Linked DNA regions of Homo sapiens. The protein of the gene in region 2 interacts with the protein of the main gene of each other region in a pairwise test. Each region holds a gene or a part of one and is shown on either strand. Other genes may lie near its edges. The genes, in order: SURF4 and LMAN1.

What was found.
Region 1: the proteins of LMAN1 (region 2) and SURF4 interact in binary tests that used the Homo sapiens proteins (3 or more experiments, as listed by UniProt).

Annotation. Positions count from the first base shown.
Region 1 is NC_000009.12:133,369,922-133,385,159, forward strand, and holds the start of SURF4 (surfeit locus protein 4), read right to left. Parts: upstream 6,140-15,238; 5' UTR 6,049-6,139; coding exon 6,001-6,048; intron 5,640-6,000; exon of another isoform or gene 4,878-5,639; intron 3,988-4,877; exon of another isoform or gene 1,001-3,987; coding exon of another isoform or gene 955-1,000; intron 1-954. Other genes in the region: serine/threonine kinase-like domain-containing protein STKLD1, read left to right, coding at 6,553-6,639, 9,115-9,201, 13,935-13,979. UniProt on the Homo sapiens protein: Endoplasmic reticulum cargo receptor that mediates the export of lipoproteins by recruiting cargos into COPII vesicles to facilitate their secretion.
Region 2 is NC_000018.10:59,331,990-59,346,579, forward strand, and holds part of LMAN1 (protein ERGIC-53 precursor), read right to left. Parts: intron 14,063-14,590; coding exon 13,930-14,062; intron 6,965-13,929; coding exon 6,771-6,964; intron 6,639-6,770; coding exon 6,568-6,638; intron 1,256-6,567; coding exon 1,102-1,255; intron 1-1,101. UniProt on the Homo sapiens protein: Mannose-specific lectin. May recognize sugar residues of glycoproteins, glycolipids, or glycosylphosphatidyl inositol anchors and may be involved in the sorting or recycling of proteins, lipids, or both.

The DNA.
Region 1 (15,238 bases), on a different chromosome or scaffold from region 2:
GGACTCCCAGGGCAGGGTGTGGGTGTGGGGCGTGGACCCCAACAGCAGCAGAGAGGTAGACTGCAATCCATACCCAAGACAGACACCAGAGGTGTTCTGACTTGCTTCTAAAATGAGAGCTGTGAGCCACTCACTGGCCTGAGATGAGCAAACCAGCCCAGCCATGGGCTGCGGTCTAAGCCTCCCCCAGTTGCAGGACCTGCATTTAACATGCTCATCTACGTGCACAGCCCACGAGATTGAGGCAGTGTTTAAAAGTCTCTTTGAATGAGTCTGCGACTCTTAATTTGAGTGTCTGGGTCAAGAGGATTAAAGAGCAAAAAAGAGAGAGAAGGTGGGACAGGCAATTCACACCTCCTTCCCTGCGCAAACATGGTGACGAAACAGACACAGCTCTTGGCTTTGGGGAAAAATATGCAAAAATCTAGGTACTGCCTTCTGAACTGAGCACACCTACTGCTTGGCTGTCCTGGTTTTCAAAGGCAAGCCTGGTCCACACTGAAGGCTGAAGTCAGGCTGATGCAGTCTCCTCTAAACTGGCCACCATTTAATGAGCATCTGTTTGGACTGAACACTGAAAAAGCCACGTTTAAAGACAAGGCCCAACATTAACCTTATTTCCTACATGCATGTTGGTCACAACTACTTCAACTTGGCCACTGGAACCATGTCATGCCACTCTAGAACACGTCCCAGAGCCAGTGTCCCCTCAGCACAGCAGAGAAGAGCCCTCAACACAGGCAGGACACACAGCACCCCAGGACAGACAAGAGCAGCCGCACTGCAGGCACTAAGGCCATTGCTGGTAGCCAGCACACAGGTGACCTGTGTAAACACGGCGAGCACATAAAACTTGTGACAGTCCCCCTCCCCCCCATTAGAGAACTGCGACAGCAGAGCCAGAGGTGGCTGTTGACCTGGCAGGCTGCAGGAAGAAGATGACAGTTAGCTCACCTCTGTGGCCAAGCTTCTCATTAAGTCTCTCCGAGAACCGCGCCATCAAGCAGGATATGGTTCATAAGCAGTGACAGCATCTGAGGGGCTTAACAGGAAGACTGATATTTCTCTCAAAGGGGTGGTTATTTTAGACGACTGAAGGGGATTTTAGAAACGTAATTAATTATATCCACCCTGAGATGACTTCCTGGGCATCCAGTGATCACTGTCACAGCCACCTGCAGCTCCCACGCCACACAGAAAACTCCACTTTCTCTTCACACTCAGGACAGAAAGAAATTGAGGAAAGCAGCTTGCAAATTCGTGGTGAATGTGAACATCGACGAAAAAGGCAGGTCAGATTTCCTTGATCACCAAGGACTGGGGCTGCCTTGTTCAAAGCCCAACTCAGGTCCCACACATCCTAGAAACAAGCACCTGCGGCCCAGCGGCTTCCCTCACATCAGCCTGTCAGAGCTGGCTCGAGCTCACTGGCTCACTGCAGCTCCAGAACTTCCCCGAGCCCCGCTCCCATGCTGCTCTATAGGTTCACACTGCACCCTGCAGGGCCAGAAAGGATGTCGCCAGCCCAATGTGGGAGATGATGGCCTGGCTTTACTAAAAAACTGTGTGATCAAAATCCCAACTATAGGAAAGACGTAACTGAGAACGACTGGGCCCCATGTTCTGGGAGGAGCCCCGCTAACCACAACCTCCTCTGCTCCTCGCCCGCACTCCCCTGAAGAGTGAGTTTTAACCTCCCGTTAAGATCATCACACAAAGAAAAGTGAGTCAGCTCCTCTTTGCCTTCTCTCCCCACTCCTTCATGATATAGGGCAGGGTATGACAGAGCCTGCCACTGTCACCAGGACTTTGCCACACCAGTCACCAGCATGGTGTTCATCGGGACCCTCACAGTGCCTGTGCCACCTGCAAGTTCAGGGGTCCTCAGGCCTATCCTTGCTTCCCCAGCACTTCAACTAGGGCCGAGGCCAGCTCCTAGGGCCCAGGACTAGCTCTGCCACTCTTGAGGACAGGTTAAAAACACCAAAGGTCACACTGGAGAGGAAGGCCCCATGCAGCTTTTCTGTCACCTTGGTGATGAGCCACCAGGCAGAACCCATTAAGTGCTAATATTGCTGTTTATGGGTATAAACTGCTTAGAAGCTACATTTTACAGAGTGTCTAATAGGCAATGAGGAGCAGCTGCAGGCATGGACATTAGTTTGGATTGCTGAGTTCATTAGTTTCTGGACCCTTCCCATGGCTTCCAAATGCCAAGCTCCTGCATAGAGCACGTCTCAGCAGTTTCTACAGAGCATGGCTCCTGGGAGCAAGAGGACACTGTCCCTGGCTGCCAGAGCAAGCAGCTTGATGCCAGAGGCAGAGAGACAAGAGATGCAACTGTGGGGAGCCTGCCAGCAGAAACTAACCAGACTGCTCGTCCCCGTGGACCAGCCTCTGCAGGCCAGAAGGAAAGATCAGTCAACCAAGCAGTGAGGAACCCAGCCTTTGGGGTAACAGGATGCGGACTCAGTCTCCAGGCCACCACAAGCCAGTGCGGCCAGCCAACCTCCCTCTGCCCATCTGAAGATGGTGACGCTCTGGCCAACCTCCTACAGTCAAGAAGTTCACAAAAGGAATGTCTATCATGGACCCGGCCCAGTGAAAGACTTAATGTCATTGTCATAATACTGGAAGACACTGGGCCTGGGAAACTAAGCTTACTTAGGTCTTGCTTTCAGCAGCCCACACTTTCTGGTCAAATCTTGTCACTTCAGTTTTGCTCTTGTTTTCTGAAGATGTGAAAAAATGGATGTGTCACTTTATCTGATCAGTGACTTCCATGGTAATCCTCTATCGGCTTCAAATTAGGTCATTTTCATGTAAAAGCCTGGTCTGGCAGCTTTAAGTACTATGTGAATAAAGAGAAACAAAGCCCCACCTGGGCTTGGTCAGATTCTGTCCACAAGAAGCCATATTTTGACTTCGAACCCTGTTTACTTGCCTGCATCTGTCTGATTGGGGTTTGGGCGAGTACAAGTAGCTGCCCTCCCAAGCTGCCCACAAAAGGGCATGGAAGCTCCCACAGCCATGCTCTGCCACCACCTAGACGGACTCTTAAGGAGATCATCTGACGGCGGCAGCCTGCGCTGCCTTACAGATATGGTGCCTTACAGATATGGTCCTAACCCACTTGGGTTTTGTATGTGAGCAGCCCCTTCACCCGCTAGTGCTCTTCCCTTGACTTGTGCCAGAAGAGCAACACCAGGGGCTGGGGGCGCTGGGGACCAAGACCCGGCTTTTCTTGGTCTTGGTCACAGGCAAGTCTAGGAGCCTGAGCAGGTTTGGCCTCCCCTCAGTAACCTGGGAGAGGTCGACTCTGTGCCCCCTCAAGAGCCTTTCCAGTTCCAAGCTACTGCTTCTTTCATTTAAAACATAACAGAATACATGATGAAGGCTGGGCGCGGTGGCTCAGGCATGTAATCCCAGAACTTTAGGAGGCCAAGGCGGATCACCTAAGGTCAGGTGTTTGAGACCAGCCTGGACAACATGACAACATGGCAAAATGCTGTCTCTACTAAAAACACAAAAATTAGCGGGGCGTGGTGGCGTGGGCCTGTCATCTCAGCTACTGAGGAGGCTGAGGCAGGAGAATAGCTTGAACCCGGGAGGCGGAGGTTGCAGTGAGATGAGATTGCGCCACTGCACTCCAGCCTGGGTGACAAAGTAAGACTCTGTCTCCAAAAAAAACATAATAACAAAACATGAAGAAAAGGCAGGGCAGGGTGGCTCACGCCTGTAATCCCAGCACTTTGGGAGGCTAAGGCAGGCGGACCACCTGAGGTCGGGAGTTCGAAACCAGCCTGGCCAACATGGGGAAACCCCGTCTCAACTAAAAATACAAAAAAATTAGCTGGGCGTGGTGGCAGGCGCCTGTAATCCCAGCTACTTCGGGCTGAGGCAGGAGAATTGCTTGAATCCGGGAGGCGGGGGTTGCAGTGAGCCGAGATCGCACCATTACACTCCAGCCTGAGCGAAATTCTGTCTCAAAAAAAAAAAAAAAAAAAAAAAAAAGAAGAAGAAAACAGTATGTGAAGACACTGGGAACTTTTTTTTGTCAATAGGGGAGTCTGTCATTTGCTAGTGGGCAGCAGCTTGACTGGAGACATTTGATCTAGATTTGGTTATGAAATTCACTTGCAAATCCAGGTTTTCCAGGACAAAGAGCGAGTGTATGTAGCTCTCATCCTTCCCTCAGCTATGAGGAGCCATCTTCTTAGGGAGCTGCGACTTGGAGAAATATAAATGGGTCACTATAAATTATGTCAATGAAAACTGACAAACCTAAAAGGTCTACCTGGTTCTTGAGAGCTTTTGATATGAATTGTTTTTAAAATTGTGTCTTTAAAGGCTGGGTGCCGTGGCTCACGCCTGTAATCCCAGCACTTTGGGAGGCTGAGGTGGGCAGACCACCTGAGGTCGGGAGTTCGAGACCAGCCTGACCAACATGGAGAAACCCTGTTTCTACTAAAAAAAAAAAAAATACAAAATTGGCTGGGTGTGACGGTGCATGCCTGTAATCCCAGCTACTCGGGAGGCTGAGGCAGGAGAATCGCTTGAACCCAGGAGTTGGAGGTTGTGGTGTGCTGAGATCACACCATTGCACTCCAGCCTGGGCAACAAGGTCAAAACACCATCTCAAAGAAAAAATAAATAAATAAAAATAAATAAACAAATAAAATTGTGTCTTTAAGCACAAAATCAGAATCTTAGGGAAAAAATGCTTCGTCAAGTTGATTACTTTTTCCCTCCAAATTTAAAATATTGGCTCACAGAAAGTGTTGCAATGAGAACCGATGGTGAGGTCACACTAGAAAGAGATCACCCCCCAGGAGGAACGGAAGAGTTCAATAGCTGATCAGAAAACGGTCACTTACTCTTTTCTTTTTTTTTTAAACCACACATATACAAGCCTTCCGATAAGTCTAGGCCTCAGAGTTTGATGACTCACTACCACCTCCAGAAAAATTTAAAAATTTAACCATCACTACTTAAAACTCTAGCAAAGCCACACGAACACATTAAGTAAACCGAGGAAAAAACGGCAAGTGGGCCACACAAGGCTCTCCCTGCGGGGATAAGGCTGTTAATTTGTCGACATAACGGGATTCTTTTAGAAGTAAAAGGCATAAATCTGCGTAACCACCACCACCTTTTGTTTTTGTTTTTTTGTTCTGTCAAGCTTAATCAAGAAAGAGGGAAGGGAGTTGTGTCCCTTCACTTTGTAGGATCGGATCCTGTCCACCCAGTTCCCGAATGCTCTCAACAGTTACCCAACCGCCTGTTTCAAAGGCTTCCCTGTTGCTCAGAATGCCACCTGGACACTTCTGGAAGGAGACTATCAGGGAGATAGGCTTCCCCTCCTCCCAGGCTGTGTACAGGTCCCCACTCAATCCAGCCCAGGGCAGAGTCCAAACGGGGAGGGAGACGCAGACAGGGTCAAAGGGACCCCAAGAGTCCAGCACATCTGGGAAAGAGAAAAGGAAAAGGTGCTGTGGCTTCCTGTAGCTGGGGCGCACGCCAGCGCGCCCCCTTTCCTCTGGGAGGACCCCCGGCCCCCGTTCGTCCCCGAGCTCCCAGCCCGCCTCCGGGAGCCCCAGTGAGAGGAAAAACGTGCGGGGACCCCCCAGCAGCTCCAAACGCCGAGGCGCTCCCCGCGAGCCTCAGACCCGACCCAACGCCAGGACTCGCGCCGCCGGCCCGGGAAGAAACCCCCACAGCCCGCGCCCCGGGCTGGCTGGAGGGTGGGGGCGGCTAGCCAGGCAGGGCGCCGAGGCCCGGGCTCCGGGAGCGGCCCAGCGGGCAGGGGAGACTGGGCCCGGAGGCCGGGTTTGGGGCTGTCCAGCCGGGACAGAGGGCCCGGGCGGGGGGGTCCCCCTGTGGGAACAAGGAGTCAGGGGGCGGCCCGGGCCTGGCGCCCTGCGCTGGGAGGCCGACTCCGGAGCGGCCCGGGCGGCCTGGGTCGGGACCGGGGCCGGGGGAGGAGCCCGCAGGCCGCACCTGGTCGGCGAAGTCCTCGGCCGTGCCCATCAGGTCGTTCTGGCCCATGGCGACGGCGGGAGGCTCGGCTCGGCTCGCTCGCTCGCTCGCTGGCTCTCGCCCGTCGGCGCCCGCACCCGCTGCGGCCTCCACAGGAAGTGCCCGGCGGCCGGCCTCGCTCCGCGTCGGCTGCGGCTCCAGCGGCTGCCACGTAGGCCAAGCCTTAAAGGGGCCGCGCGCCGCCCGGGCCCGCCCCGGTGCGTCTTAAAGGGGCCACGCGCCATCCCCAGCCTCCCGACCCATCCGCTCGAAGCCACGCCCGCCGCGCTCGACGCCACGCCTCTCACGCTGGAGGCCCCGCCCGCCGCGCGCAGGCCCTGCGGTCCCTCCCGGCCCGGCGGAACGCGTCCCTTTTAAGGGGGCGGGGACCTGGGGGTCTGGGGCCAGCGCGCGGGAGGGACGCCTGAGTGCCTCGAGGGCGCCGTTCGGGCGGGGAGGATCCCGCGGGTCCCACTGACCCACGCGGGGTGGGGCCAGGGGTGGACGCTCGCCCGTACGCGGTCGCTACTGATCATGCTTGGGCCAGGGTCCAATCGCAGGCGCCCCACGCAGGGGGAGCGAGGCCCAGGGTCCCCCGGAGAGCCCATGGAGAAGTACCAGGTGCCGAGTGTTCCCTGCGGGGAGGCGGGAGCTCCGTGGGGTAACGGTCGCAACCCTGGAGCTACGGCCGGCGGTTCCGACCGAGGGCGGCGAGGGGCCCGCGCCCTGGCCAGTGTCGGCCTGCAGCTCCTAGGTTGAACCCGGGGGGCCTCCAACGGTGACCTCCTGGGTGCCCTTTGCCACTCAGTTTCCCCCTTTGTGAATTGACTAAGGATTCTCCAGCCCTGGCTGAGTATTTGAGGGCGTGGGGCAGCTCCTCTATCCTTCGTGCCTGGGGTCTGTGCGCTTGGGTCCACCGAGGCAGGACCCCCGGGAACATCCCGAGTACATAATTGGGAGCCCCCAGTCCCCTAAAAACACCCCTGCAGCGTGGGTCTGTGAAAATGTTTGAGACCTAAAAAATTCACAAAACACAAAAGGAAAGCTGCAAAATAAAAGTAAATGTTTAATTAAATGCTTCTATACATGATATATACACTTTATTAAATGTTAGATTCAGCATTTGTGAAAAATGCATTCGCTTGGAAACAGTTTGCGGGTTAGATTTTTGTCACTTTGGAAGAATTGTCTTTGTGTGAGAGGACTATAGGGCGTTGCCAGAGGTGAAGCAGATGAGCTTCTGGTGGCCAGATAATTTTTAAAGTAAAGTTGTTTTTCAGATTAAAAAAAAATAGACGTTTCAGGAATATACCTGCTTTTGGAAAAAAAAATAGACTTGATTCGAGATACGGCTCCATTTTACTGTTTAATTTGCTGCCTAAGCTTGAACGCTCTCACACCAGCTCTGCCCTCAGCCCGCTGTGGCTTAGAACAGCAGTCCCTGGCCGGGCTCGGTGGCTCACGCCTGTAATCCCCAACACTTTGGGAGGCCAAGGCGGGCGGATCACCTGAGATCGGGAGTTCAAGACCAGCCTGACCAACATGGAGAAACTGTCTCTACTAAAAATACAAAATTAGCCAGGTGTGGTGGCGCATGCCTGTAATCACAGCTACTCGGGAGGCTGAGGCTGGAGAATCGCTTGAACCCAGGAGGCAGAGGTTGTGGTGAGCCAAGATAGCGCCATTGGACTCCAGCCTGGGCAACAAGAGCAAAACTCTGTCTCAGAAAGAAAAAAAAAAATAGCAGTCCCCAACCTTTTTGGCACAAGGGACCAGTTTTGTGGAAGACAATTTTTCCACAGATGGAGGCGGGAGGATGGTTTTGGGATGATTCAAGCACATTACACTTAGTGTGCAGTTCATTTCTATTATTATGTTGTAATACATAATGAAATAATTACACAACTCACCATAATGTAGAATCAGTGGGAGCCCTGAGCTTGTTTTCTTGCAACTAGACCATCCTCTCGGGATGATGGGAGACAGTGACGGATCATCAGGCATTTGTTTCTCATAAGGAGCATGCAACCTGGATCCCTCACATGCACTGTTCACAATAGGGTTCACACTCCCATGAGAATCTAATGCTGCTGCTGAGCTGACAGGAGGTGGAGCTTGGGTGGTAATGCGAGCCATGGGGAGCGGCTGTAAATACAGATGAAGCTTTGCTCCACTGCCTGCTGCTCACCTCCTGCTGTGCAGCCTGGTTCCTAACAGGCCACGGACTAGGTTGGGGACCCCTGGCTTAGAATATCCAGTGTCATGAGCAGGCTGCTCACAAGGCTGGATTACAGACTCCTAAGACTTTTATGGGCTCCGAGAGTCCCTAGGCTCAGGCTTCCATCCTCATATCTCCTCCTCTGGGTCCTGCCCTCCCTCCCCCAATCCTCTGATGAATGTCAGCCTCCAGCAATCCCCGGCCCAGCCCCCTGCCCCATAGCACTTGGTCTCTGCACAGAGTTCTGGCTTGGTGGCCATCTCTCCAGATTTGGCTCAAATCACAGGCTCTAAGATCAGACCCCCAGAGTTACCCCAGGCAGTGTCCTGCTTTCTAGTGACATAGCCTCAGGCAAGGACCTAGCTCCTTGTGCCTCAGTTTTCCCCAATGTAAACACAGAGGTAGCAATGGTGTCAACTGCAAAGGGTGGCTGTGAAGTGCTTGGCACCATGCCAGGCACACAATGGCTTCCTGATTGTACCAGTCACAAGATTGGTTACTTTCTTGTTGGAAACCAGTTGGGAGGTGGATGCTGGAAGTTGAGGTCACAGAGGTCTATAGAGAGTGAATAAGCCCTTTTTCTCTGGGAGGTTCTTGCACTTGAGTGCCCAGCTGGTCCTCATTGCAGGTTGGGGGAGGGATACAGGGTTGTAGAAGAGCTCCAGAATCGGCCCCAAATAGGTGAGATCAGAGTTCTGCCATTGAAAGGCTTCTTGCCCTCCTTGGGCCATTTCCTCTATTGCAAGATGGGGTGGAGCCACTTGCTCTGCCAGCCTGACAGGGGAGTTAGCAGGGCCAGAAAAGGAGTTGGAGCTGGGCTTTTGGAAAGGGAAAAGTTGTGTGCATTTCCTGAAAGCTTCTCTCTTCCTTGCTGATAGGTTTTGTACCAGCTGAATCCTGGGGCCTTGGGGGTGAACCTGGTGGTGGAGGAAATGGAAACCAAAGTCAAGCATGTGATAAAGCAGGTAAGAGGCCAAGCCTGTGCATCCCATGCCGGGTGGTTCTGTGACTGTGATTTTCCCCAATACAAGCTCTTCCCATGTTGGAGAAGCTTCCTGATGCGGCAGCTGGATTCCTCGCTGCTGACACTTGCGGAGACTAATCTGGTTGGGGTAGATGTGGGGGTGCGTGAAGCTCTGTCACCTTGATGGGGAAGCAATGCTAATTTTTACTCCAACACCACCACCTCCCACCATTTACGCATCACGTGCTGTATGCCAGGCACTGACTCACTTCATCTCCCGTCAACCCTGTAAAGCAGAAACAATGACCCTGTTTATAGCCAAAGACAGTGAGGCTCAATGCAGCGCCAGACTAGGCAAGGTCACACAATTTCCAAGAGGATTTGAATTCAGGCCACCTCACTGGGGGACACCGTGCTACCCAGTGCTGGGTCACCAGTTTTACCAAAAGGGAGCCAGGCCCAGAGAGGATGGGGACTGGCTCAAGGTCACACAGGGCTAAGGTCACACACCAGGCCCTGAGCCCTTCCACCACACTCCTCACCAGGGCTAGCAGGGCATGGGGAGGTGTAGGCCTGCAGGAAGACAGCCCTTTGTGTGTCCGAGACAGGGAGGTCCAGATCAACAGAGGGACTAGGGTGAGAAAGCTGCTGCAAGAGTCCCTGGCATGCCCTCCTCTCTGTGGTGGTGGCAGGGACCCAGCAGGTTCAGGGCTGGCCATACAGCGGGAGGAGCCTTGTCAGCAGCTGCTACTGGGCCAGGCCTCAGTCCGTACAGCTCCGCAGTCTCACCCTGTATGGCTGGGCCTGGAGTCCTTGCCCCTGCCCTGCTCCCTTGCTGGCTGGCTGTGGGGTTGGCCCCCTTGTCTCACAAGCCACTGGGGCAGTGTGGCTGACTGCCCTCTGAGCAGTTAAGGAGCTTTTTTTTTTGTTTGGAGATGGAGTCTTGCTCTGTCGCCAAGGCTAGAGTGCAGTGGTGTGATCTCAGCTCACTGCAACCTCTGCCTCCTGGGTTCAAGCAATTTTCCTGCCTCAGCCTCCCAAGTAGCTGGGACTACAGGCACACGCTGCCACGCCCGGCTAATTTTTTGTATTTTAGTAGAGACAGGGTTTCACCGTGTTGCCCAGGCTGGTCTCGAACTCCTGGAACTCCTGAGCTCAGGCAGTCCGCCCGCCTCGGCCTCCCAAAGTGCTGGGATTACAGGCATGAGCCACCGCGTCCGGCCTGAGGAGCTTTTAAAAATGTCAGCCATGACTAGGCATGGTGGCTCATCCCTGTAATCGCAGCATTTTGGGAGGCCGAGGCAGGCAGATCCCTTGAGGTCAGAAGTTTGAGAGCAGCCTGGCCAACATGGTGAAACCCCATCTCTACTAAAAATACAAAAATTAGCTGAGCATGGTGGTGGGTGCCTATAGTCCCAGCTACTTGGGAGCTGACGCGGGAGAATTGCTTGAACCCGGGCGGCGGAGGTTGCAGTGAGTCGAGATTGCGCCACTGCACTCCAGCCTGGGTGACACAGCGAGACTCTGTCTAAATTAATTAATTAATTAATTAAATTAAAAATAAAAATATCACCCAATTATTTCTAAATAAAAATTGGGGAAAGAGAGTGTAGGTAGGAGTTTATGGGTTCTTCCAGTCTTTTTTCCTAAGCGTTTGTAAACTTTTTTGGATTCAGGAGAATGGTATCGTTAAAGTTGATAGCATCCTTTTTATATTGCAAACATAGTTTCATGTCATTCCCACAGCCTCCTCCTCTCTTGGCTCTGGCAACTGTGTGGCCTCCCGTCTTGCTTGATGTGCTGTAACTAACCCAAGCCATCCCTATCACATGGGCTGAGCATTGAGCTTGTTCTCAATTTTTCACTTTGTGTAAACAGCTCTGATAAAGATGCTTATGGCATTATGGTTTTGTTTGTTTTTTTGTTTTGTTTTGTTTTGTTTTGTTTAGCATCCATGATTTCCTTAGGAAAAATTCCTAGGAGTGAGATTTCTGGGTCATACGATGTAACTTTTTTTTTTTTTTTTTTTTTTTTGAGATGGAGTTTTGCTCTTGTTGCCCAGGCTGGAGTACAGTGGTGTGATCTCAGCTCACTGTAACCTCTGCCTCCCGGATTCAAGCGATTTTCCTGCCTCAGCCTTCCTGAGTGGCTGGGATTACAGGCACGTGCCACCACATCCAGCTAATTTTGTATTTTTAGTAGACGGGGTTTCTCCATCAACATGGAGAGGATGGTCAGGCTGGTCTCGAACTCCCGACCTCAGATGATCCGCCTGCCTCGGCCTCCCAAAGTGCTGGGATTACAGGCGTGAGCCACCCCACCCAGCCGCTTTTTTTTTTTTTTTTTGAGACGGAGTCTCACTCTTGTTGCCCAGGCTGGAGTACAATGGCGTGATCTCGGCACACTGCAACCCCCTTCTCCCAGGTTCAAGTGATTCTCCTGCCTCAGCCTCCGAAGTAGCTGGGATTACAGGCATGTGCCACCACGCCCGGCTAATTTTGTATTTTTAGTAGAGACAGGGTTTCTCCATATTGGTCAGGCTGGTCTCGAACTCCCAACCTCAGGTGATCCGCCTGCCTCGGCCTCCCTAAGTGCTGGGATTTCAGGCGTGAGCCACTGTGCCCGGCCACAATGTAACATTTTCAAGTCTTTCCATGTTTTGGCCAACTTCACCTCCTCATATGCCCCCTAGGACAGGAGGAAAGGAAGACAGGAAGGCTCACTCAGTGTCTTTGCCCTGGATTCCACGGGACAGTGCCACTGGCATCTCAGGTCTCTCCATAGATCTGGGAACAATTCACTAACTTTACATGATGGTCTGCATTCACCCCATTATAAGAGTACTTCATTCATAAGTCTTTTGAGCAAAATTCTGGGTGAGGATCTGGTATTAGAGCCAGTGGTAGTATATACCTAGGGCCTGTGCCACCAAGCGTGCTGCAGACTCAAAGCTCCGTGCTGCCCTTGCCACCACCCTTCCCTTTCCATGCCCTCCCCACCTCCACCCGGAGAGGGCACAGGAGAGAAGAGCACTGTACATTCCATGCGTGGAGACAACCTTCCCCATGTGGGTAAGGAATGAAGTGGTGAGATTGATGCTTTCCCAACCAGAACAAGATGTTCCTGTTTAAAGACGGTCTGAAAATGGATCCTTTACTGAGTTCTTGGAGCGTATATTATGCTGTCCTAAACTTATCTTTGCAAAAGGAGCAAAGATGTTCTCATTGCTCTAAGTATTTTTAGATCTCTGCCTTAGGAATATCTTCCATTTGTGCCATATGGTGGGGGCAGGAATGGTGGGAGCCTGTCACTCCTGCTAAATAGTGATGATGGTGGTGATGATGGAGGTGGCAATGATGGTGGTAGTGGTGGTGATGGTGGTGGCAGTGATGATGGTGATGATGATGGTGATGATAATGGTGATGGTGGTGATGGTGTGATGATGGTGATGGTGGTCATGGTGATGGTGTGATGATGGTGATGGTGGTCATGGTGATTATGGTCGTGGTGATGATGTGATGATGGTGGTGGTGGTGTGATGGTGATGATAGTAATGGTGATGGTGGTGATGGTGATGATAATAGTGGGGATGGTGACAGTGGTGTTGATGGTGTGATGGTGGTAATGATGATGGTAATGATGGTGATGATGGTGGTGATGATGGTAATGATGGTGATGATAGTGACGATGGTGACAGTGGCATTGATGGTTTGATGGTGGTGATGGTGTGATGATGGTGGTGGTGTGATGGTGATGGTGGTAATGATGGTGATGATGTTGGTGATGGTGGTGATGATGGGGATAATAGTGGTGGTGGTGACAGTGGTGTTGATGGTGTGATGGTGGTGATGGTGTGATGATGATGGTGGTCGTGGTGTGATGGTGATGGTGGTAATGATGGTGATGAGGTTGGTGATGATGGGGATAATAGTGGTGATGGTGACGGTGGTGTTGATGGTGTGATGGTGGTAATGATAGTGGTGGTGGTGGTGATGGTGTGATGATGGTTAAGGTGGTGATGGTAATGATTTTGATGATGGTGATGATTGTGTGATGATGGTGATGATGGTGTGATGGTGATTTTGGTAATGATGGTGGTGATGGTGATGATAGTGATGATGGTGATGGTGGTGGTGTTGGAGTGATGGTGGTAATGGTGGTGGTGTGATGATGTGATGGTGGTAATGGTGGTGGTGTGATGATGGTGGTGATGGTGATGGTGATGATGGTAATGATGGTGATGGCAGTGATGATGGTAATGATGGTAATGATGGTGATGATATATGATGATGATGGTAATGATGGTGATGATAGTGGTGATGGTGGTGGTGATGGAGTGATGGTGGTAATGGTGGTGGTGTGATGGTGATGATGGTGGTGATGGTGATGATGGTGATGATGGCAGTGATGGTGATGGTGGTGATGAAGGTGGTAATGATGATGTTAATGATGGTGATGATAGTGTTGATGGTGGTGGTGATGGAGTGATGGTGGTAATGGTAGTGGTGGTGGTGTGATGATGGTGATGATGGCAGTGATGGTGATGATGGTGATGGTGATGATGGTGACAGTGATGGTGGTGTTGGTTGTGGTTGTGGTAATGATGGTGATGGTTGTGGTGGAGGTGGTGGCTGTGCAGATGATGGTAATGGTCGTTGTGGTGGTGGTGATGGCGGTGATAACGGAGATGATTTGCTACATGTTTATTAAGCTCATGCTCTTGTGCCCTTGCAGGTGGAATGCATGGATGACCATTACGCCAGTCAGGCCCTGGAGGAGGTAACTCTCAGGGTAGTTTTCCCTCTGGAAGAGCTCAATGGAGCATACACAGACTGTGTTCTGTACCTTCTTGTTGAGTGCCTGGATGAAGAGAAGGCTGGAGGGAGGGATAGAGCATCAGCACCAGTTTTGCCTCAGCTGTGAAGCCAGCAGCCCCAGGTCATGAAGGGAGTCCATGCCCCAAACACTCACTGCTAAATGCAGGTGCCGACAACTTAGAACATATGTTCCCAGAGAACATAAAATTTAAATATTGGGCTGGGCACGGTGGCTCACATTTGTAATCCCACCACTTTGGGAGGCCGAGGCGGGTGGATCACTTGAGGTCAGGAGTTCAAGACCAGCCTAGCCAACATGGGGAAACCCTGTCTCAACCAAAAATACAAAAAAATTAGCTGGGCATGGTGGTGGGCACCTGTAATCCCAGCTACTTCGAGAGGTTGAGGCGGGAGAATCACTTGAACCTGGGAGGCGGAGATTGCAATGAGCCGAGATTGCACCATTGCATTCCACCCTGGGTGACAGAGCAAAACTTTGTCTCAAAAATAAATAAATATTGGCCGGGTCCCTAGGTTAATCTACCAATAACTTCTTTAAATATTTTTTCTTCAATATAAAATTATTAATTACAGCAGAAAATTTTAAAAATACAGAATTGGGTTTTCTTTTGTTTTTACCTTTTTTTTTTTTTCTTTAATAGCAATGGGGTCTCACCATTTTGCCCAGGCTAGTCTGAATTTCTGGGCTCAAGCAATCGTCCCACCTCGGCCTCCAAAGTGCTGGGGTACAGGCATGTACCACCACACCCATACCAGAACTGTTTAACAAAACAAATATAAATTACCCTTAATTCTACCATTGAGAGCTGCCCAGCAGTAACATACTCGTTTACAATAATAGCGATAACAGCTGCACTTCGGTTTGATTGGCAAAGCCTCCGAGTAGCCTTTCTTTGTGTTTCTTGAATTTCCCACGAGCTTGAAGGTGTCCCCTCTTATCTCATGGTCACTTGTTTGTCTTCTGGAATTGCTGGCTCTGGAGCTTGGCCAGCAAACATTATTGGGTGTATAGTGTGACCGAAGCACAGTGGTGGGCCCAGGCTACTCGGTAACAAATGGGAAGAAAGAGCATGGGGCCTGCCCAGAGCCGCACGCCGCCGTGGCTTTTCACGTTGCCGATTCCCATCCACAGCCCACTAGGTAGGCCACCTGCTTTCATGCCCAACCTTCCACCCCAAGCAGTTGTCTGTCTGGCTCCAT
Region 2 (14,590 bases):
AGTCCTCATTCTCTACAATCTCATATCATTCAACATTATTCACTGGTGTTCTGAAAAATATTTCTTTCCCTATTTCCCTGAGTATTCCTTCTATTATAAGGAGGCAATTAAATACCAGGAACAAAGACTTCATCCAAGTACCCAGAGAGAATGGCTTCTAAGATTAGTTGTTCCCAATATAGTTATATTTGTGGGACAAAGTTCTTCAGTAAATTGATACACACAGTATCAATTTGGTCATTGCAACAAAGACAATGTACGAGAAAAATAACCTCAAACAGAACTAAGGGGACAGATAATAATGCTTTGGATGAGAGGTCATGATCAATAAGAAAACTATTAAGCCATCTTTGAAAAAAATGTATATTCAAGGCATATATACAGGAATATAGTTAAGAGAGTTATCAAAAAATATAAAGGAGACAAGATTAGAAGCTGAAGACCTAAGTTTTCTCCCTTTCCTACTTACTAGCTACTGACCTTGGGAGAGTCAGTTTAATGTAACATTATTATTAATCTATTAGTATATTTTCTAAAGGTCATCAAACGTTTTAAAAAGCTTTTAAAAAGATAAAACGCGATATAAAATATAAGGGATTGGGATTTCTGCTTCTGGTAAAGCAGACTAGGAAATATGGGCCAACCATATCCCAAATATGTCTTATAGAAGACAACCAGCAGAGTCAAAAACATATCTAATCCAATCCAAGCACACGAAACCTGGGTGAAGGTAAATGAAGCTAACAAGATAGCAAGAAATTACCAGATTAGAACCTTGACGGAAAAATAGGCCAAAGAAATACACTTTAAGCAATCCATGGGTCAGAGAAGACATTAACATGGAAATCAGAAAATATTTTCACGAAATGATAATATAAATATTACATATTAAAAAACCATGACTGCTATGGGAACTGTTCTTCCACCTTCAATAACTAGAAAACCAGGACACATGGAGATCTGCAATAAATGGGACAATTCTACCTTAAACATTAAAAATAAGCATTAGCATTAACTAAAGGGTTAAAATACTTGCAGTAGAGTATGAGTTCTTCCTTTCCTAAAGATTATAATTATAAAAGGAAAAGGAAACAAAGTTACCATATTTCGCTGCACTAAGTTATCTATGTCCCTCTTTACTATGTGCAGGTGCTCTTTGATGTCAATGAAGTGCTGTGTTGTCTCATAGACGCCTCCAGCAGAGCCAGGGTGCTGCATTCCACTGACCAGTCTGACGGTTTCACTCATGGAATTTCTGAAACAGAAAGTCTCTTGATACAATAAAATCACTATAAAGTTTTTTTTTTTCAGTCACAGATCTCCAATACTTTTACTTTTCAAGTCTAATATATTACATCATTTAAAAAAAAAAACAGGTAAAGTATCTTTAAAAATCGAGTTGTGTTCAAAATTGGAAAATAATTTATAAAACGACATTATGCCTTTATATTTTACTAAAGGTCATCTAAAAATACCATGTAGAAAATACTACTAGGTAATCTGTGTTAAAACCAATAGTATAAGTGGATATTGAATATAATGGATGATATTTTTAATGAAGTTATAATAAATCTTTCTAGGTGTTCAGCTGTACAGTAAAGGACTAGTGCCAAACGCAATCATTTCCTATAGGCACACTCACACACACACAGACTTGTCCGCTTTGTAGCTGCACATATAGATGATTTCACTCATACAGCATATAGTAGGAGGCTAATGGCTTTGTGACCCTGAGGACAGGGGTCACAATTCTGATTTCCTACGAGTGCATTCAACAGTTATGGTTCAATTTGGAGGAATAAATAAATAAGTTATTTCACTGGAGTCAAATGTAGTTTAAAAAGTAAGAGCTTTACCAAAAGAAAAAAAAAAAAGAGACTCAAATTACTTAAAAATAACACTATATGTCAGACAGAATGTTAAGTATAACATTTAAAAAATTATGTTTGAGTTACATGAGCAGTGAAGACTTAAAAGTAGTTACAAAATATCTCAAGTGCTTTTGAATCAATGTCACGTGTTGATTAAAATTTCTTTCAATGGCACATATGCTCAAGAAAATTCCTGTGGGGCTAAGCTTTTCCACTTAAACTCAAATTAAGCATAACATTTTAATATAACTAAAATAATACCAAGACCAAAACCTCACAGAGTATGTAACGTTGTCACATATTTGTATTTAAGAAATTCTGCTTCCCAGAAGCATGAACTTGCTTAGGTATAAATGTCTTTTTAATATACCAAAGATTGAGTCACTTAATTTGCTCCTACTCAGTCATTCATTCATTTGCCTGTTCATTCTGCTAACATTTATTTCATAAGTGCTGTGAGCCAGGGAATATTAGGGATATAAACTTTGCAAGAAGAATGAAATATCTGCCCTGTGGAGATGAATTGTCTAGCAGGAAAGCAACGTGACAGAAGCACGACTAGAGCTCTACAAAGAAAGATGCATTTAGCTGAGTGTCAAAAAATGAAGAGGAGCCTATGGGGATAGAATTGTGGTTGAAGGAGGTCATAGTTGGTTTAGGAAACAGGTCAAGTGAAAAGAGGGCTGGACAGAACGCTTGAAAAGAATACCTTTTAAGGGACGATGGAAGGAGAGCAAGTGAAGATAACTAAATGGAAGCAGAGGCCAAAGAATACCAGGAGTGAATGGTGTATCAGAAATCTTAAAAGGGAAGTTTTGAGATGGAGAAGTGGGAAGAGGCATCAACTGCTACAGAAAAGCTACATGCTTTCTAAGATCTCTTTCTGCTAAAAAAAATTTCTTTGATTCCTTAAGAATATAAAAATCCACAAAGAAACAAACTACCCTTTCCATTAAAGGCAAATATTTTCTATCTCTTTACATTTTTTTTTTGAAGCTAAATCCTAAAGAAAAAGTTCCAGAGCACTAGTTCAGAAACTTGAGCTCAGTTTTTATATTAACTTACTGTATGCATGACATTTATTCTCAGTAAGTGGGAGTTTGCAAGGATTGTTAACTCCTCTAAGAAAGGGATTCTATGGATAATACAACTGGACAGCTAGGACGTCCTGACAACTAGTTACATCTTTAGATGTCCTAGTACTACTGTTAAGTAAAACATGCAAAGCACAAAAGAGTATCTAGAATATGCTACCCGTCACATAAGAAAGAAAGGGACTTCAGAAAATATGGGCTGGGTGCAGTGGCTAACACCTGTAATCCCAGCACATTAGGAGGCCAAGGCGCGTGGATCACCTGAGGTCAGGAGTTCGAGACCAGCCTGGCCAACATGGAGAAACCCCATCTCTACTAAAAATACAAAAGTAGCCAGGCATGGTGTCAGGTGCCTGTAATCCCAGCTAGGCGGGAGGCTGAGGCAGAAGAATCGCATGAACCCAGGAGGCAGAGGTTGCGGTGAGCCAAGATTGCACCAGTGTACTCCAGCCTAGGCAACAAGAGCAAAACTCCATCTCAAAAGAAAAAAAAAAAAAGAAAGAAAAGAAAAAGAAAATACGTATATGCAGAAGAAATACAGGAAGAACAAACCGGAAGCTAACAGAATTGGTTACCAAGAGGGAATGGGTGGGAAACAGCTGGAAAGAAGGGGAGGATGGGAAAGTGGTAGCAAGGATGAAGAAGCGATATACACATGCTCTGCCCCTTAGAACCATAGTATTCATATACCCAAAATACAAACAATTTAAATCAACCAGGATATAGGAGGAATATAAACATTAACAAAGAATCTAGCTGGATCCTAAATGAGTAATATCAGCCATAATGAAAAGAGTAGGGAAAAAGAGAACTACACTAAGAAACTATCTGGAAAAGAGTATCTGGGCTGGATACTGTAAAGCTAGAGATAAAAGGAACTTTACATAAACTTGTCAGTAAATGTCTTTCTCACAGGGATACGAGCTAACAATTTGAAACCACTTTGTGTGTACTTATATGCATACTCAAGTGAAACCAATAAGTAAATATGTTATAGATACAGATAATAAGAACCAGGTTTTTCCCTGTTGGAGGAAGAATTTTCAAATAAGACAAGGGGGAAAGTTAAAAATTAACTCTGTAGTGTTCAGTCCAGCCAGAATCCAAAATATCTGCATAATCTCATGGTTTAACACAAGAGTAGGTTGACAGACACGGAACTACAGACTCATGTACATGCATGGGTTGGTATACATATGTATATTCCCTAGCTCTGTCCAGTAAGAGGCCTAGAGGTAACGGCACCGCGGTAGTAATGAGCATACCTAGTGCCCAAAGGTTGGTTTTCAAATACCTTTCTCAAGAAAAAGGAACCAGGGCTCACTGAGGGCAGAGAAAATACAAGATGACCCTAGAAGATAGAGCAGTACCATAAATTTTTAAAATGCTCAAAAAAAGATGAGGGCTTGTTGAGAGAACAAAGATGCCAACATGAAGGAGCTCAGAATGACCATACCTGAAACAATTTGAGCAGCAAAATAAATAAGGAGAGTGTTGGACTGTAACCTATGGAATAAGTATCCATGAGTCTGAACTGATCTAAATAAATAACTAAATAAATAAATGGGAGAGAAAAGATAGTTGGTCCTGACAGCAGAATTCCAATGAACAAATATGGAGGGAATTATTTCGAAATATAAACATCGGGGCCAGGCGTGGTGGCTCACGCCTGTAATCCCAACACTATGGGAGGCAGAGGCAGGAGGACTGCTTGAGCCCAGGAGTTTGAGATCAGCCTGGGCAACATGGCAAAATCCCAACTCCAAAAAAAATAGAAAAATTAGCTGGGTGTGGTGGCATGTACCTGTAGTCCCAGCTACTCAGGAGGCTGAGATGGGAGGATCATTTGAGCCCAGGAGGTTGAGGCTGCAGAGAGCTGTGATTGCACTACTGCACTCCAGCCTGGGCAACAGAGCTAGACCCTGTCTCAAAAAAATAAATAAATAAATACATAAAAATAAAAATTAAAAAAAAATCAGCATTTGGCAAAAACCACTTTCTTGTTACAGGCAAGAAACATCAATGGATGCTAAAATGAATGAGCAGAAGGTTGAAATGGATACTTACATAGTCTCAAAGTACCTTCTCCAAAATACTAACCACAAAGGGAAATACAGTAACTTTAAAGTAGAGATAGCAATAGGAAACCACCATAACCGAGTGATCACAGCCAACATCATCAGTAATATCTTACCAATCTTATATAATAATATATATAATTATATTATATAACATATTATAATATATAATATCTTCTTATCAAAATGTGGAACTTCCATCCAACCAAACCCAAATCAAAAGGTATTAACTGATTAATGCTCTTGGAAAATGTCAAGGTCATGAAAGACAAGGGAAGATGAACTACTGCAGACTGCAGAAGGCTAAAGAGAAAAAATAACTAAATGTAATGTGCGATTGTGGATGGGATCCTGGAATAGAATAGGCCTTGGTGGAGAAACTGATAAATTTTGAATAGGTCATTAATTTAGTTGATTGAATTGTATCAATGTTAATTTCCTGGTTCTGACAATTAAACCATGGTTATATAAATTAGAGAAAGATGGGTGAAGAATGTATAGAAACTTCCCATACTATTTCTGTAGCTTCTGAGGTCTAAAATTAGATCGAAATAAAAAGATTTTTAAAAAGGTTGCGTTACATGATCCAGTCTATTTCTAAAAGGATTCTATTCATTTAACTAAACTATTTGAAGAGCTAAACTATTCATCTAGCATCATAAATATTTCAATCATGAGTTCAGATTATGAAGATTTTTTAAAATGCAAAGAGAAAAATTGAAGAAATATAAATTTGCAGTTATAAGTTAAGTGCCTTTAATCTCTAGACATCAGGTATAATCACCTTCTGTTTGATCTAACCTTGTTTAATTCTCCAGTCCTAAAGAACTCACCTTGACATTCTTGTTTGTCAAGGGTTCTATCGGTTGGGACAGTGCTCTGAAATGTTAGGTTATGGAAACATGACACTATGGTTTGTTATCTCTGCTCCAGGCATTGAAAGCTATTAATTATCTGCATAAGTCAATCATTCTCATTAGAAATTTATTGTTCAACATTCTAAGGACACAATTATCTCCTCTCTGCTCCAACTCTGTCCAGTCTCTCTGAGAGTAAAAGATGGGAATGAAAAAGAGGTAGTCACACATATTACGTTCAAAATGGTTTCATTCCATCAAAAAGAATTTCCTGCATCAGGTCTGCTTGTATTATAGTCTTACAATGCTACACATATTTATTCCTCTAGTACTTTTCATAAAAGTGTTATATATTATTTCATATTCTTTTTATATTTTATAAATATAAGAACACACCTGGCTCTGTCAAGTAACTGACAAATCTCTTTAAAAGATGCCAAAACATTTTTTCTTTTCCAGCTCTAAACAATTAAAAACTTTAGACATGTTTGCAGTTTTTGAATATTAAAAGTTGCTGTATTTATGGTCCCCTATTTGTAAAATGAATCTAGAACGGGATTCTTACCCTCATGCAGAAATCTTGCAATACAGTGCTTGCACACCTGAAGTCACAAATTTAGGATAAAAAAAATCACATAACACACAAACGCTACTTTTCCATACTTACTTCATTTCATTTACTTGTCTCAGAATCTCATGCTGAGTTTTCACAACAGTATCCAGTTCTTGTTGAGTAATCTGGAGGAAGAAACAATGACGAGCAAGCTGAATAATCCACATTCTATGAGCACATAGTACAGTTGCCCTTCTTCTTTACTTCCCTTCCAGCAAAGGGTAAATGGGGCACATCTGCATATTCTGCAAGCCCACCTGCCCATGCTGCCCAGGCATTCCTGCTCCTCTTTTAGAGATTTCCTCTGTTAAGGAAGAGACATATCTTCTCTGTTCATCAAGAATCATATCTAACTGCCGGTTCAGCTGCTTGATTTCAAGATGAATACGATTCTGTCCTTCAAAGACTTGTCTTAGCTCTCGATCTCCTACACTCTCAAATATTTCCTCCGCTGAAAAGGAAATAAATAAAAATGATCAGAGTCACCTACACATATGTAGTTTTTGAAATAACGTAAGTGACCAAAGTGCCAACATTCAGCAAAATTAGGACATCACCATCACAGTGGTACAATCTCCCAAACAGAAAATATGCAAATAATTAATTCAATAATGATTAAATTATTTGTTTTCTGCCATTTCAGGTGATTGAACACTTATTATAAACTGGGTTTAAATTTTTTTATTTAAAAACAATTTTTCTTGGATAATCTCAGGAGGGATCAAAATGGCTAACCAGATGCAAGTAGTATGTACCTCCTCCACGGAGAAAAACCAGAGTAGTAAGTAGATACTTGCATTTCAAATAGATTGCCTAGGAGAGAATGCTAGGATTCATCAGAGAAGAAATGGGAAGCACCAAAATAAGGAGAGAGTTTGAGGCAGCTTGCCCAGCCAGGAGCTGACTGAGCACCAGAAGGGCTCCTAGATGATGGGAAACAGTAAGAGAGAAAACCCCAGGGCCCTGCAGTCCAAAATGGGCTTTTATGATCCTGGCTACAGGAGAAACCTCTGACCCACTAGGGCTGTGGGCTGGACATATGGAACTGCCTAAATATTGCACAGAGATGTTGCTCCATAAAGGGAAACCACATGGAATCCCACAGGCATTTGAGCCTACAACAGCTCCAGTTGGGCACCACTGTTGATAGCCTAGATACTGGGGATCTACAGACATGGCTGCAGTCGCTGCAATGTTCCAAGGAGAGAAGGGGGGACACTGGTCACTCCCATGCACCCCTAGGAAGGTCCCTCCTGCCTTGCTGAAGGGTGCTGCTGATACTGAGACATGAGTAGACAGCACTCCCCACAGCTTCTTGCCCATGCTGCTTGCCTGGAAGGGACCCTACCCTCTCTGGTCCCAGACCCAAGGTGAAACACTGAGAGTTTAATGGAGGGTTGTGCCCCACCCTCAGGCTATGTTTGGGCTGACAAGGCTGTAGCTACCACCTGGCCAAGGAGAGACAGGAAACAGGCTCTCCTATGCATATCTAGGACAATACCCACTGCCCTGCAATGGGCTCTTGTGAAACTGAGATGTGAGCAGACTGCACTCCTTACAGCTTCTTGCTCATGACACCTGACTAGGAAGGGCCCTGCTCTCCCTGGTCCCAGGCACAAGGCACAATTTTGAGAGTTTCATGCTGGGCTGTGCCCTATCCTTAGTCCGAGTTCAAGTTCATATGGCTGCAGTTGTTGTCTGGCTAAGGAGAATAACTAAGAAAATAATTGATGAGAGCTTCCCAAGTCTAGCAAAAGAGTTAGATGTCCAGATACAGGAGGCCCAGCAATCCCCAGAAAAATATATTGCAAAAAGGGTTTCACTACAGCATATTGTATTCAGAATGTCTAAAGTCAATGTGAAATAATTTTAAAATTAGCAAGAGAGAAGTATTTAGTCACTTATAATGGAAATTCCATCAGATTAACAGCAGACTTTTCAGCAGAAGCTTTACAGGCCAGAAAGGAATGGGCATTCTCAAAGTGCTAATAAAAGAAAAAAAAAAACTGTCAGCCAAGAATTTTATATCCTGCTAGAATCAGCTTCACAAATGAAGAAGAAATAAAGCCTTTCCCAGACAAGCAAATGCTGGGGAAATCCGTCATTACCAGACCAGCATGACAGGAAATGCTCAAAGCGGTCTTAAACATGGAAACAAAAGGGCAATATTCACCATGATAAAAACAGAAATATAAAATAAAAGTTCTTATAAAACAATCACAGAGGGGAGGAAGATGTAAGAATCAAATGGCAACATGACAGAATTTCATCAAATGACAAAGACAAAGATGGAAAAAAGAAAGGAACAAAGAATTTATAAGACAACTTGAAAATAATGAACAATATGACAAGAACAAAGCCTCATATATCAATATTAACCTTGAATGCAGATGGATTAAATGTTCCACTAAAAGATACAGACTGGCAGAATGGATTAAAATACATGGCACAACTATATACTGCCTACAAGAAACTTAGGTTATTCATAAAGACACACATAGACTGAAAGTAAAGAGGTGGAAAATAATAGTCCAAGCAAATGGAAACCAAAAGTGAGAGGAGTAGCTGTACTTATATGAGATAAAACAGACTTAAAAAAGAAAAGACAAAGAAGGTTATTATATAATGATAAAGGGATCAATTCACCAAGAGGATATAACAATCCTAATTTATATGCACCCAACATTAGAGCATCAAAATTCAGAAAACAATTATTACGAGACCTAAAGAAAGAGAAAAACAGTAATACAATAATAGTGGGAGAATTTAACACCACACACACAACACTAGATAGATCGAGACAGAAAAATAACAAAGAAACATTGGGCTTAAATTGGACTTTAGACCAAATGGACTTAGACATTTACAGAACTTTCTACAATAACTATGGAATATACATTCTTTTCACCAGCACATAGAAGACTCTCCGACACAGGACTACATATTAGGCCACAAAATAAGTCTTAGCAAATTTTTGAAAATCAGAATCATATCAAGTGTCTTAGACCACAATGGAATGAATCTAGAAATCAATACTAAGAGGAACTTAAGAAACTAAACAAACACATGGAAATTAAACAGCATGCTCCTGAACATTCACTTTGTCAATGAAGAAATTAAGACACAAATGTAAAAATTTCTTGAAATGAATGAAAATGGAAACACCAAACCAAAACTGAAAAAAGCAGTGTGAAGAGGGCAGTTTACAGCATTAAATGCCACATCAGAAAGTGGAAAGATCGCAAACAATCTAACATTATTCCTCTGCAAACTAGAAAAACAAGAACAAACCAAACCCAAAGTTAGCAAAGAAAAGAAATAACAAACATAAGAGCAAAGCTAAATGAAATAGAGACCAAAAAAATTAATAAAGGATCAACAAAACAAAAAGTTGCTTCCTTGAAAAGATAAACAAAATTGATAAACCACTAGCTAGACTAGGCAAGAAAAGAAGAGAGACGATCCAAATAAACACAATCAGAAAAGAAGGAGACATTACAACAGATTCCACAAATACACAAAAGATCGTCAGAAACTATTTGAACACCTATATGCTCACAAACTAGAAAACCTAGAGGAAATGGATAAGTTCCTGGAAACACACAACTTTCTGAGACTGAAACAGGAAGAAACAGAACTCCTGAACAGATCAATAATGAGTAGCAAGACTGAATCAGTAGTAAAAAAAAAAATCTCTTAACAACAGCCGGGACTAGATGGACTTATAGCTGAATTCTATCAAACATATCAAGAAGAACCAATTCTCCTGAAATTATTCCAAAACACTGAGGAGAGAATTCCCCCTAACTCATCCTATGAGGGCGGTATCACCCTGATACCAAAACCAGACAAGGACACAAAAAAATAGAAAACTACAGACCCATATCCCTGATGAACAAAGATGCAAAAATCCTCTACAGAATACCAGCAAAATGAATCCTACAGCACATCAAAAAGATAATACAGCACGATCAAGGTGGGATTTATCCCAGGGATGCAAGGAGGGTTCAACATATAAAAATCCATATATATGATACACCACATAAACAGAATTAAGAACAAAACACATGATCATTTCAACAGACTCAGAAAGGACATTCAATAAAATTCATCATCCCTTCATGATAAAAATCCTCAATGAACACACCTCAACATTAGGCCACATATGACAAACCCACAGCCAACCTCACACTTAACAGGGAAAAGTTGAAAACATTCCCTTTAAGAACTGGAACAAGACAAGGATGCCACTTTTATCACTCTTACGTGTAATAACATAATACTAGAAGTCTTCACCAGAGCAATCAGGCAAGAGAAAAAAATAAAAGGCATCCAAACTGGAAATGAGTAAGTAACATTATCCCTGTTTGCTAATGATATGATCTTATATCTCAAAAATCCTAATGACTCCACCAAAAAACTCTTAGATTTGATAAATGAATTCAGTAATGTTTCAAGATAAAAAATTAATGTACAGAAATCGGTAGCATTTTCATATACTGATAATGATCTAGCAGACCAAATCTAGAAGGCAATTCCATTTACAACAGCTAAAAAAAAAAAAAAACACCTAGAAATATATTTAACCAAGAAGGGGAAAGCTCTCCATAAGGAGAACTTCAAAACAACGATGAGAGAAATGGTAGATGACACAAACAAATGGAAAAGTATCCCATGCTCATGAATTGGAAGAATCAATATTGTTAAAATGACCATACTGCCCAAAACTATCTACTAGTTCTAGACACTCCCAATCAAATTACCAATGTCATTTTTCACAGAATTAGAAAAAAAAAATCCTAAAACTCATATGGAAAAAAAAGGGAGCCCAAATAGCCAAAGCAATGCTAAGCAAAAGGAATAAATCTGGAGGCATCACATTACCTGACTTCAAATTATACTACAAGGCTAAAGTAACCAAACCAGCATAATACTGGTATAAAAACAGACACATAAGTCAGTGGAACAGAACAGAGGACCAGGAAATAAACCCACATACCTACAATCAACTGATCCTCAACAAAGTCAACAAAAATAAACACTGGGGAAAGGACATCCTATTCAATAAACGGTGCAGAAAAAATTGAATAGCTATATATAGAAGAATGCAAGTGGACCCATACTTCTCACCATATGCAAAAATTAACTCAAGATGGATTAAAGACCTAAACATAACACATGAAACCATACAAATCCTAAAAGAAAACTGAGGAAAGACTCTTCTGCATATTGGCCTAGGTAAAGAACTTAGACCAAGTCCTCAAAGGCAAACACAAGAAAAACAAAAATAGACAAATGGGACTTAAACTAAAAAGCTTCTACACAGCAAAAGAAACAATCAACACAATAATCTAACCTACAGAATGGGAAAAAATATTTGCAAACTATGCATCCAACGAAGGGCTAATATCCAGAATCTACAAGGAACTCAAACAACTCAAGAGAAAAACAAAAAGCCCATTAAAAAACTGGGCAAAGAGCATGAACAGACATTTTTCAAAAGAAGACACGCAAGTGGCCAACAAATAAATGAAGAAATGCTCAACATCACTAATCATCAAAAAAATCCAAATTAAAACCACAATGAGATACTATCTTACACAAGTCACAATGGCCATTATTAAAAAGTCAAAAGACAACAGATGTTGTCAAGATGTGGAGAAGAGGGAATGCTTATATGCTGTTGGTGGGAATGTAAATTAGTACAACCTTCATGGAAAACAGTATGGAGAATTCTCAAAGAACTAAAATTAGAATTACCGTTTGATCCAGCAATCCCACTACTGGGTGTTTACCCAAAGGGAAAGAAATCATTATATCAAAAAGATACTTGCACTTATACGTTTATTGCAGCCCTATTTACAATAGCAAAGATATGGAATCAACCTAAATGCCCATCAACAGAGAACTTGATAAAGAAAATGTGGCGTGTGTGTGTGTATATATGTATGTATATACTATAGACTACTACTCAGCCATAAAATAAGAATGAAATTATGTCTTTTGCAGCAACATGGATGGAACTGGAAGTGATTATCCCAAGTGAAATGACTTAGAAAGTCAAATACCATACATTCTCACTTATAAGTAAAAGCTAAACAATGGGTACACATGGACAAATGGAGTGGAATAACGGACACTGGAGACTACAAAAGGTGGGAGGGGAATGAAGGTTGAAAATTACCCACTGAGTACCAGGTTCATTAGGGTGAGAGTACACTAAAACCCCAGACTTCACCACTATATGACACAAGCATATAAGAAATCTGCACTTGTACTCTTCCTAAATACATAAAAAGTTAAATAAAATTAAAATGGAAAAATATTTCTCTTTCATTACACTGTGTGATTCTACTTATAAGAATAGGCAGAACTAATCTACAGTGATAACAATAAGAATAGTGATGGGCTCTGTGGAGAAGGTTGTTGACTTTAAGGAGGCATGAGGGAACTTTCTGGGATGATAAAAATGTTCCGTGTACTGATCGGGGTGATGGTTAAATGGGTATACACATTTGTCAAAATTTACTAAACAATACTTTTCAAACACTAAAGTCAGCTTCAGGATATACTCACAAATTTTATGTGATGATGTTTAAAACAAATTCAAAATAAGAATGACCTTTATGTTTCATTTTTAAATTCATTAAGTCTGACTCATACTGTTGATCATTAAGAGAACTGCATACTACATAGAGTTCAAATGCTAGCCACAGCCTTTATTAAGTACACCTTTGATCACTTATGCTGACTGGGAACAATTCAGATAAAAAGCTAGCAGATAATATAAATTCCCTCAATTTGGCCTTAAAATGTTTTATTTTTGACATTAGCACACTCACGTTCTTAATAACATTGGGTTAGACTAGTATTTTATAATTTTCAAGTATACAGTCCAGGATTCTATCGAGTAGTATGGGGAGGAGAAGCAGATATGTCACATTACTTTCACAACAGTTTTGATAGATTTTAAGGATTATCTCCACACTATAAGGTAATTATGTGTCACTAAAACCAAAAATATACACTTTTGATGATTTCAGTCAAAAAATATTTACTGAACCTGAACTACTAGGTTAGCATTGTTTTGGATTTATTTTTAGGCTTAGTGGTCACAGCAATGAATATTAACAAAATCCCTGTCCTCATGGAGCTTTCACTCTAGCGGTCCCATTCCTCCAAATAACCATGGTACTCTTTATTTCATACATGACTAAGCCACATTCTCACTGGTAAAAATGCCAATCTCTTGACTCTTAAAGACTAAAGATTTGCTCCTAAATTGTTTCCAGAAATCACTTGGAATGTGCCTGTTCAGAGAGCAGGGATGAGCTAGGCAACACAGAGACTCAAGCGTCCATGATCAACAGCCTCAAGCCCTGCTGCGGCACCCATGTCAGCTTTGCTACAACTCACCAGGCTGCCCTTGGAGGTCGGGGTGGCCCTTCTGGAATTCCTCTTTTTTTTTATCCAATTCTTGTTGAAAGTGCTCAAATTCCTCCTGATACTTTTCTTTTTCCTTTTCCGAAATTTCTTTATCTGGTGTGGGCTTTTTTTTGGAGTTTTGGAATAGATCATTAAAAAGATAAGAAAATCATTAAGATATCTCTATACATGTTATTTTTCTCATTTTAACTCTTCTACCACTAGCGGAAAGGTTAACATAAAAATGTATTCCTTCTTTACTTAAACGATAGCAAATTACTCTTTTTTTTTTTTTTTTTTTTTTTTTTTAGAGACAAGAGTCGCGCTCTGTCACCCAGGCTGGAGTGCAGTAGCGTGATCTCGGCTCACTGCAACCTCTGCCTCCCAGGTTCAAGCAATTCTCCTGCCTCAGCCTCCCGAGTAGCTGGGACAACAGGCACCTGCTGCCATGCCCAGCTAATTTTTTTTGTATTTTTTAGTAGAGATGGAGTTTCACTGTGTTGTCCAGGCTGGTTTTGAACCCTTTAGCTCAGGCAATGCACCCGCCTCGGCCTCCCAAAGTGCTAGGATTACAGGCGTGAACCACCGCGCCTGGCCCTTTTTTCTTTTTTGAGATGGACTCTTACTTTGTTGCCCAGGCTGAAGTGCAGTG